Homo sapiens: one gene and its partners. The protein of the gene in region 1 purifies or fractionates together with the protein of each later gene. This does not show direct contact. Each region holds a gene or a part of one and is shown on either strand. Other genes may lie near its edges.

Region 1 (3,653 bases):
AATCGATACCAGCAGTGTGAGAAACCCAAAACATCTTACCAATGCCTACTTTAAGAAGCAGTTGTGGAAGCCTAGTCAGTAGGAGGGTGAGATCTTTGACAGAAAAAGAGAAATGTAAGACTACAAAGCAGTGCAAGGCTGATCAGAAAACCATGGACTGGCAAATTTTACCAAAACTCAAAGCTATTCCTCAGCTCCAGGGCTACCTGCAATCTGTGTGTGCCCTGGTGAATGGAATTTATCCTCACAAATTGGTGTTCTAAATTTCTTAAGAAGAACCTAATTATGTAACTAAAAAAAAATAAATGAATGCCGTTAATCCCCTTGGGAGCTTGGAGCCTGGTGGGAGAATCAAGGAAGCCTTGGGTGGGCTGCTGGGATGCGGGGGGTCCCTAGGTGTCTAATGACTGAGCAGAGCCCCCTGTGAGGCCACCTCTGTCCTGGGACAGCAGCACAGGCTAAACAAAAGTTCCATGGGGTCTTCATTTGCTAGGGCTGCCTTAACAAAATACCACAGAACGGGAGGCTTAAACAGCAGATATTTACCATCTCAGTTCTGGTGACCAGAAGTCCAAAATCAAGAGGGCAGTAGGGTTGGTTCCTCCTGAGAGCTGTGAAGGAAGGATCTTCTGTGCACCTCTCTCCTTGGCTTGTAGATGGCTGTCTGTACATTCACACAGTGTTCTTTCTTTGTGGATGAGCCTGTCTCCAAATCTCTTCTTAGAAGGACATCAGTCATTGTGGATTAGAGCCCACTCTAACAACCTCATTTTAACTTCGTTACCTCTGTAAAGACTCCAAATAAAGTCACATTCTGAGGTGCTTGGAAGTTAGGACTCCAACATATGCTTTTTGAGGGGGAGGGAGACACAATTCTACCCATAGCATTTGGATTGATTTAAAAAAGGGAAGATTCCTAAGGTGAAGCACAGAAATGAGGAGAAATAGTGAGACACAGAGATACATTTGCAGTAGAAACAAAACTTCCCAGACCAAGGCAGCCTTTTCCTCCAGGCAGGTCGGGGCAGGTCATGTCAGCATCTGAAAAAAAGAGCAGCTGCAAAGTAGGGGGAAAAAACCTTTTCAACATTTTGGAAAGATCTGTAGTGGATTAAATGATACTTGGTGTCTCATCATCAGGATATTTGTGTTTCAGAGGGAGTGAAAATTAGCCTGGCATTGTGACCTTGGGCAAGTCTCTTAATTTCTGTGGTCTTCATCGTTTGATTTTTCATTTCATCTTTAAGAGGTATATTATAATAGCATCTGCTCCATAGAGTTGTTCTGAGAAATCAGCAAGATAGTTTTTCACCACCAAGTCTTATCGGTGCATGCAGCAAATTGTTTTCAGTCAATGTTTGCTGCCTTTGTCGTTATCCGGGCTGGATGCAGATCCAGGCCGCGGCGGGATTCCCATGTCTTCTGTTGTGTGGTAGATTAAAATGAGGCACTGTTCCTGCAGAGCAAGCCCAGCAGCCCTGGTTCCCGTCTGCAAGCAGGTGCCCTGGTCTACTGTTGAGCAAGTGGTGGTCATGGTGGTGCCCATTGGGTGAGGGGCAGCCACAGTTTGGGAACCGAGGCCTTCTTTTCAAAACTCCTTTTTTTGTAAAAAAAAAAAAAAAAAAAAAAAAAAAAAAACAAAAGATAATAATAATAACCCTCTGATCTATGTTGCAAAGGGTGTGCTTGGTCTCTCAAATAATTGCTGTAGTAACTGTCTGAATTTAGTCCTTGTATCTGAGGGAAATCCTGACAAACGGCAAAAATTCCACGCAGACGGTTGGCCAATTATTACAGGTAGTTCAGATAAAATGCCACAGAATCCTCTGGAAATCTATTTCAATTCTTTTCCAAGTAGTGTTTTTGAGGAAACCTAGGTGTCTGGCTTGGTGGTTTCGGGCAATTTCAGTGATGAAGGATGGCTTCCCATCAGCACCATTGCGACCCAGGGTACCCCACACTTGAATGGTATTGTGTCCATGGAAGGAGGAAGTGTAGGTGGGACCTGTTTGAGAGACCAAAGTCCTCTTTTGACATAATCCTAGCACTAGTGTAGTTTGCCTTGAATCATTCGGGTAAAGGCTTTGCCTTGCTGCCTCATTTGGCTGTGAGGATGTTCCTGTGTAGGCTGTTTTTAGAATATTTTCATTAGTGGGCCACCAAAAGTTGGGAATTGTGAAGAGAAATGTCCTGTTGGACAATGTTTACAGTTTTGACTAAGCAAACGTGAGTGGCAAAATGAATTTTTGGCCAACAGTATTCCAAATATTAACTCGCTGAATCTCTTAACTCTCGAAGGTAGGTATTATTATTATTATCCCTGCTTTATAGATGAGTAGATAGGGCCACGAGTCAGCCGGTGGAGGAGTTAAGACCCAAGCCAGCCAGTCTAACTCCTGGGTCTATGCTCCTAACAACCGCATGGTGTGGTAGATTTGTCTTCAAATAAATCATGGCACCCTACGTGTGGCAATGGAAAGCAGTGACTTCTACTTCCCACTGGAAACCCTCGGTGAGGGGCAGGCCTAAATGTAAATGACAAAATAAAGGATAAGTACATTTCTCCTTCTACTTCCTAGGTTCCATTGAAACATCCCAGACAGTGATCTCTCTGAGCATCTGACCAAAATAAGGCATTCCTTTTATTTTTATTTGCTTTTCTATCATTTAACTTGTGTTTTTCTGGAAGACTGAAGGTGTTAAAAAAAAAAAAATTAGTTCAAGAAGAGATGATCTAGTTCGACCAGTTCTGGGTTATTTACTGAGCAGAAATCTGTTAGTGTATTCAAAGGAGAAACAACTCTTTTCATCAACAATAAAAATGTATTACACAATAAAGCTTTGAATGTTGAATGAGTTTCCTTTAATATATCATGTTTATTGAAAGCTCTTACAGGTGAGAACAAATTAATAAGATATCCATGTTAGGTAATCATAAATGTTTTAGAATTTACCCAACATCTGATGATGGCTTGATATATGCAAGGGATAGTATGAAGAGACCTGATAAGTTAAAAATAAGGCCTCTGCCCTTAAGGATTTTATTTAATAGTGGCAGTAATGCTAACAGACAAATGATAAAAAAAAAAAAATATATATATATATATATATATATATATATATATATATATATATATCAATCAGAACTGGCTCTGAGAGGAAGAGACTGGCTGGAAATCAAGGAAGATTTCATGAAGGAAGTAGGGTTTAGGTCCTAGCTCCATGAAGATAGAACCTGTACCCCTTATTTTGGTACCCCAGTTCTTGGCACGGTATCTGGGACATACTAGAAGTGGTGTAGTTCATTGCTATTTAAATAATTAAGTTGAACTTAGATGGTAAGATGTGAGAAGCAGAAATGAGGAAACATCTCCATCCAACCTCATTAAGCAAATATCCATTGTCCATTTTCTCTGGGCCAGGCCTTGTGCCAGGCAGGGAGAGCAGCAGGGGTGAGAGCTTGGCTGCCAGAGAGCTCAGGGTGCAAAGTCCATCTGGGTGGAGGTGTGACTGGGTGTGGGAAGGGAGTGGCAGATAAGGCTGGAAGAGTTGGGAGCAGCATTTGAAAGATCTTGAATGCTGAGGAGTTTAAGGAGAAAGATCTCCCAATGTGTCATTATTGCCTATATTTTTACTTGTATTAAGCAAATACA
Region 2 (3,753 bases), on another chromosome or scaffold:
GCAGGCCCTATAACCACAGGAACGTTGTCATTTTCGTCAATGATGGTGAGCACAACTGTGGTATTGCTTACCAGTTGCTTCGGGCTTCCTCCATCTCTTGCTTCTACCACAAAAGTGATCTGACTCACTTCTTCATGATCAAAGATTCTGAGGGCATAGATGGCTCCATTAGATGGGTCAATGGTTACATATGTAGTTATGGAACTTCCTAGAATAAAACTCTCCAAGATGGTGTATGTCACTTGCCCATTTTCTCCAAGATCAGGATCTGTGGCTGTAACAGTGGTGATATATGCCCCTGGTGAGTTATTTTCTGAAATTACAAATTCATATCGGCTTCTCTGGAAGTGGGGTGGATTGTCATTGATATCATTGATTTGAACTGTAAAATGTTTCACTGTAGAGAGACTGGGTGTCCCCCTGTCCTCAGCGATTACAGTCAAACTATACTCAGATCTCTTTTCTCTATCCAGTGTGGCATTAGTTAAGATTAAATAATTGTTTTCATATGTCTTCTGAAGTTTAAAGTGACCATGTCCATGAAGCTTACAAACTATTTCTCCATTCAGCCCAGAATCCTTGTCCTGAACTCTGACCAAAGCAACAAATGTATCAATAGGATCCCCTTCAAAAATATAAGATATTTCTTCTTTTCCAGGGGACATGAGGTTGATGTTAATTTCAGGTTTATTGTCATTAACATCCACAACCTTAATTATAATTTTGCAATGGGCTGGGATTGAATTTGGACCCAAATCTTGAGCCTGAACATCAATCTCATAGGATTTGGTGATTTCATAATCCACTTGCTTGAAAAGAGTCAAATGTCCTCTTTCAGAATCAATTTTAAAAGTCTCCATAATTTTGGGAGACACATGACTGCTGAAGGAATATACAATTTTCCCATTAGCGCCCTCATCTGGATCCGTGGCATTCAGATCTAAGAGCAAAGTGCCAACCGGGGAGTTTTCTAAGAGTTGTATTATATAAGATTGCTGCTCAAAAGCAGGGCTGTTGTCATTGGAGTCTGAAATGCTTATTTTTAGTATGGATGAGCCAGACCTCTGAGGTACTCCCATGTCTGAGGCAGTGAGCTGAAGCTCGTAGCTTGACTTCAGCTCCCGATCTAACTCTCTGACCACTATGAGTTCTGCATACTTGGCTCCATCAGTCCTGGTCCGAACCTCGATATTAAAAAAATCATTGGCAGAGAGCGAGTATGTGTGGAGGGAATTTTCCCCAACATCTGGATCAAATGCACTGTCCAGGGGAATGCGAGTCCCAACTGCTGCACTCTCAGATATCTCAATAGGTATGAGAGATCTTGAAAACTGGGGAGAATTGTCATTAATATCCAGCACTTCAACTTCAATATGGAAAAGCTGCAGATGCTCTGTGGGTAGAGTGATCACATCAAACTCTATGGAACAGTTCAAGTTTTTCTGGCACAGTTGTTCACGGTCAATTGTAGCCCCTATGCTGATTTCCCCATTATCCTCGTTTACTACAAGTAGAGGAGAATTTCCCCTCTGCATGGCTCGAAATCGAACAGTAGAAGGATTAGGAAGCTTCAATAAAACATCAGCCACATCCTCTGATAGTCTTGCAATTACTGATCCAACCCTCTGTTCCTCATAAATCCTGTATTTCAAATTCTTGCCCAGTACATCGTGGTTGAAAGATACTATCAGAAGTGCAAAAACAAACCTAAAGTGCATTTTAGCATTCATTTGGTGCATTGGTCAGTTTATGAGATTTCCCTCACAGAGCAAGTTAAAACAGCAAAGCAATTGCCTCAACTTCCTTTGGCAACGTAAAGCTACATTTGGTACTTGAAACTTGAAAGCGTCTCTTAATAACACAGCACAGCAATTAACAGCTCGCAAACTTTTGTTTTATACACACCGTGTCACGACTTCCAGATACCTTCGGCATGGAGTCCAGTCCTTGCGTTTGTTTGGTCGTTCGTCCTCTTTCCAGGCAGGAGAGTGTCACCTCCGCGTTTTCTCCCTTGTGTAGTCGGAATCCATCTATTGCAGGGTGCCGGTGGAGTCTGCAGTGTGTCTTTCCTGAGCGATTCTTTCTCCCTTTAGCTGCTCGGCTGCAGACTAAACACCCGTGATTGCTGACTCCAGTCTAAAATCTGTACAACTTCACTTCAACTCAGACAAAGCTCTTGCCCAGCGTGTGTTGAATCGCTTCCAGCCAATCAGCGTGCTTCCAAATCAAAAGCTGATGGAGTCACCCAAGGAGGGAGGGCGAGAGTGGAGGGTGGGAGAGAGAAAGAGACGGAGAAGGAGGAAGGCGGGGGTGGGTGCGCGAGGGAGAGAAGGGGAGATGGGCTGGTGGGGGCTGGGGGAGGAGATGGGAGCCAGTCCTTCCCTGTTCCTTCCTTCTTCCTCCCCACTCCCCCTCCGCCTTTCAATCTACTGCATTCACTTTCTCTGAGCGTGCCATGACAAAGGGGAGACAAATTACAGAAGAAAAACTTTAAATCAACTTCTGGTCGCCTTTATTTATATGGCACGTTAAATTCTTCTTGTTTTCTTAATTGCCCTTTCTTCTGCCACAGACATGTAATCATCTTGCTTTTCATAGTCCTTAAGTGCTAGTTTAACTTAAAATACCTCTAAGTGCGTTTTGTTGGTGGAGGAATTTAATACAATTTGAAAACTTGCTTCTAATTATGCTTCTCAGACCACCTCCTTCCCCACTCCCTCTGTAAATACTTGGGCCTTTCTCCTTCCAGGAGCACAAGCAGATTTTCTTGGGGCTCTGTTTTTAAAGAACGGAGCAAGTAAAGAGGTTTCATTTTCTGTTTTCTTTCATCTTTATTCTTTGAAGATAAAAAAAGGGCTATCTTGCACTCTTCATTTCTCTTAATTAGCAAGACTTAAGGGAACACCTCAGAATTTGGAACTAATTAACAATATAGTTCTACCTTGTATGATTTCTTTCCTTGAGTTTGGGCAAAATTGTTTGTAATATTTCTTTGTCCTGTACTTCAAAAAAATCCTATTTATCTTGGGTAAAAGACACTGCAAGCTTTAGCATGCCAATTTCTACCAAAAGGCACTATCTATACATGGCTAGTCTTTGCAGTGAATACAGGGGGGACATGGACTCAATAGTTTACAAGTCAAATTTTTATAATATATGCATTATTTATGAAAACACTTCAGATATGTATTTTAAAAACCCCAAAGGTTGTTTACACTGACAAATCAAATGCCTGAGCTGAAAATTGCATTTTGTATGCATCAAAATGCTAGGAAATATCATGGGAGGCTTGTGCTCTATCCAGGTCACAGAAACTGATACGGTATTCTTATTTGAAAATATGATTATTTATGATGTTCTTTCTGCTCTGCAATTCCTTTTAAGTTTATCATCGTGGCTCCATTTTTGCTGCTTTTTTTCATACCTTTTTCCTTATTCCTCAGCTGTCTTCATCCGCTTGCATATTTGCTGTTTCACAGAATGTCATTGTCACTTTTTTCCATTTATTTTTTCTCACTGTCTATTTTGCCCCCCAGAAACATATAAAAAAAGTAATTTTCTGATTTTTCCACTTTGCTTACTCTCAGCAGAGCTCAGCTAAAGTCACTAAGAAGGCTCTTTCCAAAAAAGAAAGCAGAGGAGTCTCAGCGTGAATTCTCCTTCTTTTTAGGCATTCAAAAGCATTTTATAAGCCATTGTCTTTTTTTCCCCCTCCTGAAATCAGTGCTGTGTGGCAAATTGTGCAGAATAGAA
Region 3 (3,653 bases), on another chromosome or scaffold:
ACAAGGCAAGGGCATTGCAGGGTGTTGCAGACTTAGTATTCCAGATTTTGCAAAACATTTCCACAGTTGTTCAAAAAAAAAAAAAACCCATCACGCATTTGCTGCAGTGATGGACGGGTGTGATCACCTGCCAGAAGGTGCATCTTCAGCAGCAGGCAGGGAGCTGGCTGCCGCTTTGTCCTTCTCCGAGACTGTCGGGACAGCCTGCTGACAGCTGCTGGGGCAGGAGGAATGTGCTGCCCATGGGCGCTGCAGTTCCTGCTTGTTTCGTGTTTGGAGATTCGGTGTTGCTGAACTTGCAGAATCCCAGTCAATTTTGCTTACCAGTGGTTGCTATGTATCAGTGCAGGAAAAATGGTAATCTTTTTCCACTCCCTACCCGGAGTTAGGGCAGAAGAAAGAGGTTTGTGGGAAAAGATGAAAAAGATTCAAGCAGGCTAAAAACCAGAGCAAGAAATGCAGAGGCAGGCAAGGCCCAGAGGAGAAAGAACTCGGAAATGGCACAAGTTAGAGCCTCTCAACAATCTGTTATTCAGAAGATATTTTATGTGTGTTCCTTAGCCAGTGAAGAAGACTTAGAGGAATATACACATTTAGCTCCCTACTAGATATAATTAGAGCAACTCTTTGTAACACTGTTGAATGCTCTTAAAAATGTGAAGTTATGGATTCTACCAAATAAGTATAAAGTCATTTTCATACTGAAAATGTTGAGAAGAACTCTCTATATGACAAGCATGTATTGTATGGGGGCAACATGACTGATTTGCATATATTTTATTTGTGATATAATATTGCAGTTGATCTCCATTTTGAGGGCACACACTAGATCATTTTTAATGTTTTAATGGGTTTTCGTTGTTGTTGTTGTTTTGAGACAGAGTCTCGTTCTGTTGCCCAGGCTGGAGCACAGTGTCACGATTTTGGCTCACTACAACCTCTGCCTCCGGGGTTCAAGCAATTCTACTGCCTCAGCCTCCCAAGTAGCTGGGACTACAGGCATCACATGCCTGGCTAATTTTTGTATTTTTTAGTAGGGATGGGGTTTCACCATGTTGGCCAGGCTGGTCTTGAACTCCTGACCTCAGATGATCTGCCTACTTTGGCCTCCCAAAGTTCTGGATTACAGGTGTGAGCCACCACACCCGGCCAATATTTATTTTTAATTCAAGTTCTTCATTTGTAATTTTCCTCAGATTCACTCAGCAGTTACTGTAGATGATTCTGTTTCAGTTCTTTTTTAAACCATGCTTAAAAGAACTAAGTAACTCTACAGACCTTTTATGTCAAACTGGTGGCTTTTTCATGAGACAGGGACAAGGTGTTACTCTGTTGCCCAGGCTGGAGTGCAGTGGTGCAGTCATAGTTCACTGCAGCCTCCGATGCCTGGGCTCAAGCCATCCTCCCATCTTAGCCTCCCGAGTAGCTAAGATTACAGTCATGCGCCACCACTCCCAGCTGACTTTTAAAATTTTTTTGTAGAGACAGAGTCTCACTGTGTTGCCTGGTTGATCTCACCTGGCCTGAAGCGATGCTCCCACCTTGGCCTCCCAAAGTGCTGGGATAGCAAGCGCAAGCCACCATGCCCAGCACGGATTGGTGGCTTAATGGCCACAGAACTGCTTTTCTCAGAAAGCTACAGTTTTATTATTTAAATTCCATTATTCATTTTGGTGAGAATATCTTGACTCTTCCACTTGTGTAAAGCAGAAGACATATAAAGTGTTAATTCAGAAACCATGTTGAAAAATGTTGGTCAGCCAGGAAGAAGAAAAACACGAGCCGTGTTGTATGTGGAGGCCCCGGTGTCTGGGTGTAATTCTCGTTCCTTCTGTGAGGTGAGGCAGATGAAGCCATTTCGTGGTTCTGCTGAGCATGGTCTTGGCAGTGTTTTTGGGAGCATCACACTGTGCCCCTTTTGTTAACTTGCTAGCCCTCCCTTTTTCTTTTCCTGGTTAATGAAAGGCACTCCTCCGTTCATTGGCACTGTGCCTACAGTAATGTGAAACAGGCTGTTACTGGATTTTAGTGATGTTAGAGACTGTTTTCCAGATGCTTCCTTGCAGTGTGGAGTTGCCTTTTTTGTTCCTTGAGATGATGATCTTCTTTGAGACAGTGGAGTTAGGGGGAATTTTAGACACAATACATCTTTTCCATAAATCATTATGAGGAAGAATTGACCTTTCTTTCTGTAGCACACCCTGCTGTGGAGGCTCCACTTAATCAAATATTTAGAACCTCGTTGGTGTTCATTTCCTGTTCAAAGGGAGGAAAAGATCCTCTGCCGAAGCCCTTCACAGCTGACCGGGTACTTCTGTAAGAGTGTAGAAGAAGGTAGGCTTCCAGGCTTGTCACTGAGTCAACGAAGGGAGCAGGTGCCTCACATGACCTTCACAGAATCTCTAACCTGCTCTTGGGGAGTGGTCAGTGTGCTCCTGGCTTCTGAAGCCGATGCCCATGGAAGCAAATGTCACCCTTAACAGTGGACATCAGTGACCAGCTTTGCATCTGTCACCTCTTTTCAAGCCTTTCCCTTTGAGTCAGCAAGCACTTAAGTCGCAGGTGCTAAGTCGCATGGTGGCTGTGGACCTTTGTTGCTCTTTGGGGCCACCCATCATTTGACCCATTTCTGTTTGGGGCATTCTTAGGTGCTCAGAAGATGATTTGATTAGGGAGCTGGTACAGACGGGCTGTCCCATCAGGTGCGCCCACCTGTTGGAATCAGGAACTGGTCACGCGAGGTGGGGGCCCAGAGGCAGCCAGGCAGTCTCTGCCAGGTGCCCGGCGCATGATTTGTGGTTTTGCTCCTGCCACGTGGCCCTGCCCTGGCTTTCCAGGCCACAGGAGGGTCTGTGAGCTGCAAACTCCCCTTTGAAGAATTCCCTTTTTGTTTAAATTAATCAGAGTTTGGTTACTGCGATGAAGAATCTTGATGGACAACCCGGGGAAGTGATCAGCATGTTGTAATTTCTAGTCCCTAAAACACTCCTGTTTAATTATGCTCTAAAGAGAAAGTTAATCTGTCATTTTTCTTACTTACTCCACCACAGTGCCTTGTTTGCCTCTCTTCTCATTAGACACAATTTAAGCCATCTACTTTCATCTTTTGAATGTAAAACAATGCATTTTTAAACATCTGTAGTATAGTACCAAATTATCTCAGCAGTAAGAGCGGTACAGTGTTTTTTTTAATATTTAGTGACTTTTGTCTGGAAAAATTAAGGTTTTTTTTCTGATTTCATAGTCTGCTTAGCTCATGATCAAAAATGGAAACTTAAAAAAATATGTTTATCCATACTTAACTGGGACATTTTGGTAAGTTACCTTATTTAATAGATGTGAGAGGTTAATAGTGATCTTATTTAGCTGTGTGGTCCACTTATTTGACACGTATTAAGCACCTTCTGTATACAGCCAGCAAACCCAGATGTGGCCCAGTCCTCATGGAGCCCAGTCTAGTGGCACAGAAAAATAGTCATGTGACTGTAAGTTGCCAGGGTGCCACACATTGCTTGACAGGGTGAGATGTCCAGAGGCCTATGGAAGAGGGATGGGATCAGCTCAGGAAGGGCAGAGCCAGGCAGCTGGGAGATGAATGGCGGAAGGAGTTGAGCCATGAAGAGTTGAGGGTGACTGTCCAGGGGTGACCCGCA

Evidence for each region.
Region 2: the proteins of CDH17 (region 1) and PCDH18 purify together in Homo sapiens (affinity purification with mass spectrometry; one large-scale study listed by BioGRID and IntAct). This does not show direct contact.
Region 3: the proteins of CDH17 (region 1) and TMTC4 purify together in Homo sapiens (affinity purification with mass spectrometry; one large-scale study listed by BioGRID and IntAct). This does not show direct contact.

The regions. Positions count from the first base shown.
Region 1 is NC_000008.11:94,198,523-94,202,175, reverse strand, and holds part of CDH17 (cadherin-17 isoform 1 precursor), read left to right. Parts: intron 1-3,653. UniProt on the Homo sapiens protein: Cadherins are calcium-dependent cell adhesion proteins. They preferentially interact with themselves in a homophilic manner in connecting cells; cadherins may thus contribute to the sorting of heterogeneous cell types.
Region 2 is NC_000004.12:137,530,350-137,534,102, forward strand, and holds the start of PCDH18 (protocadherin-18 isoform 1 precursor), read right to left. Parts: upstream 2,146-3,753; 5' UTR 1,740-2,145; coding exon 1-1,739. UniProt on the Homo sapiens protein: Potential calcium-dependent cell-adhesion protein.
Region 3 is NC_000013.11:100,664,650-100,668,302, reverse strand, and holds part of TMTC4 (protein O-mannosyl-transferase TMTC4), read left to right. Parts: intron 1-3,653. UniProt on the Homo sapiens protein: Transfers mannosyl residues to the hydroxyl group of serine or threonine residues.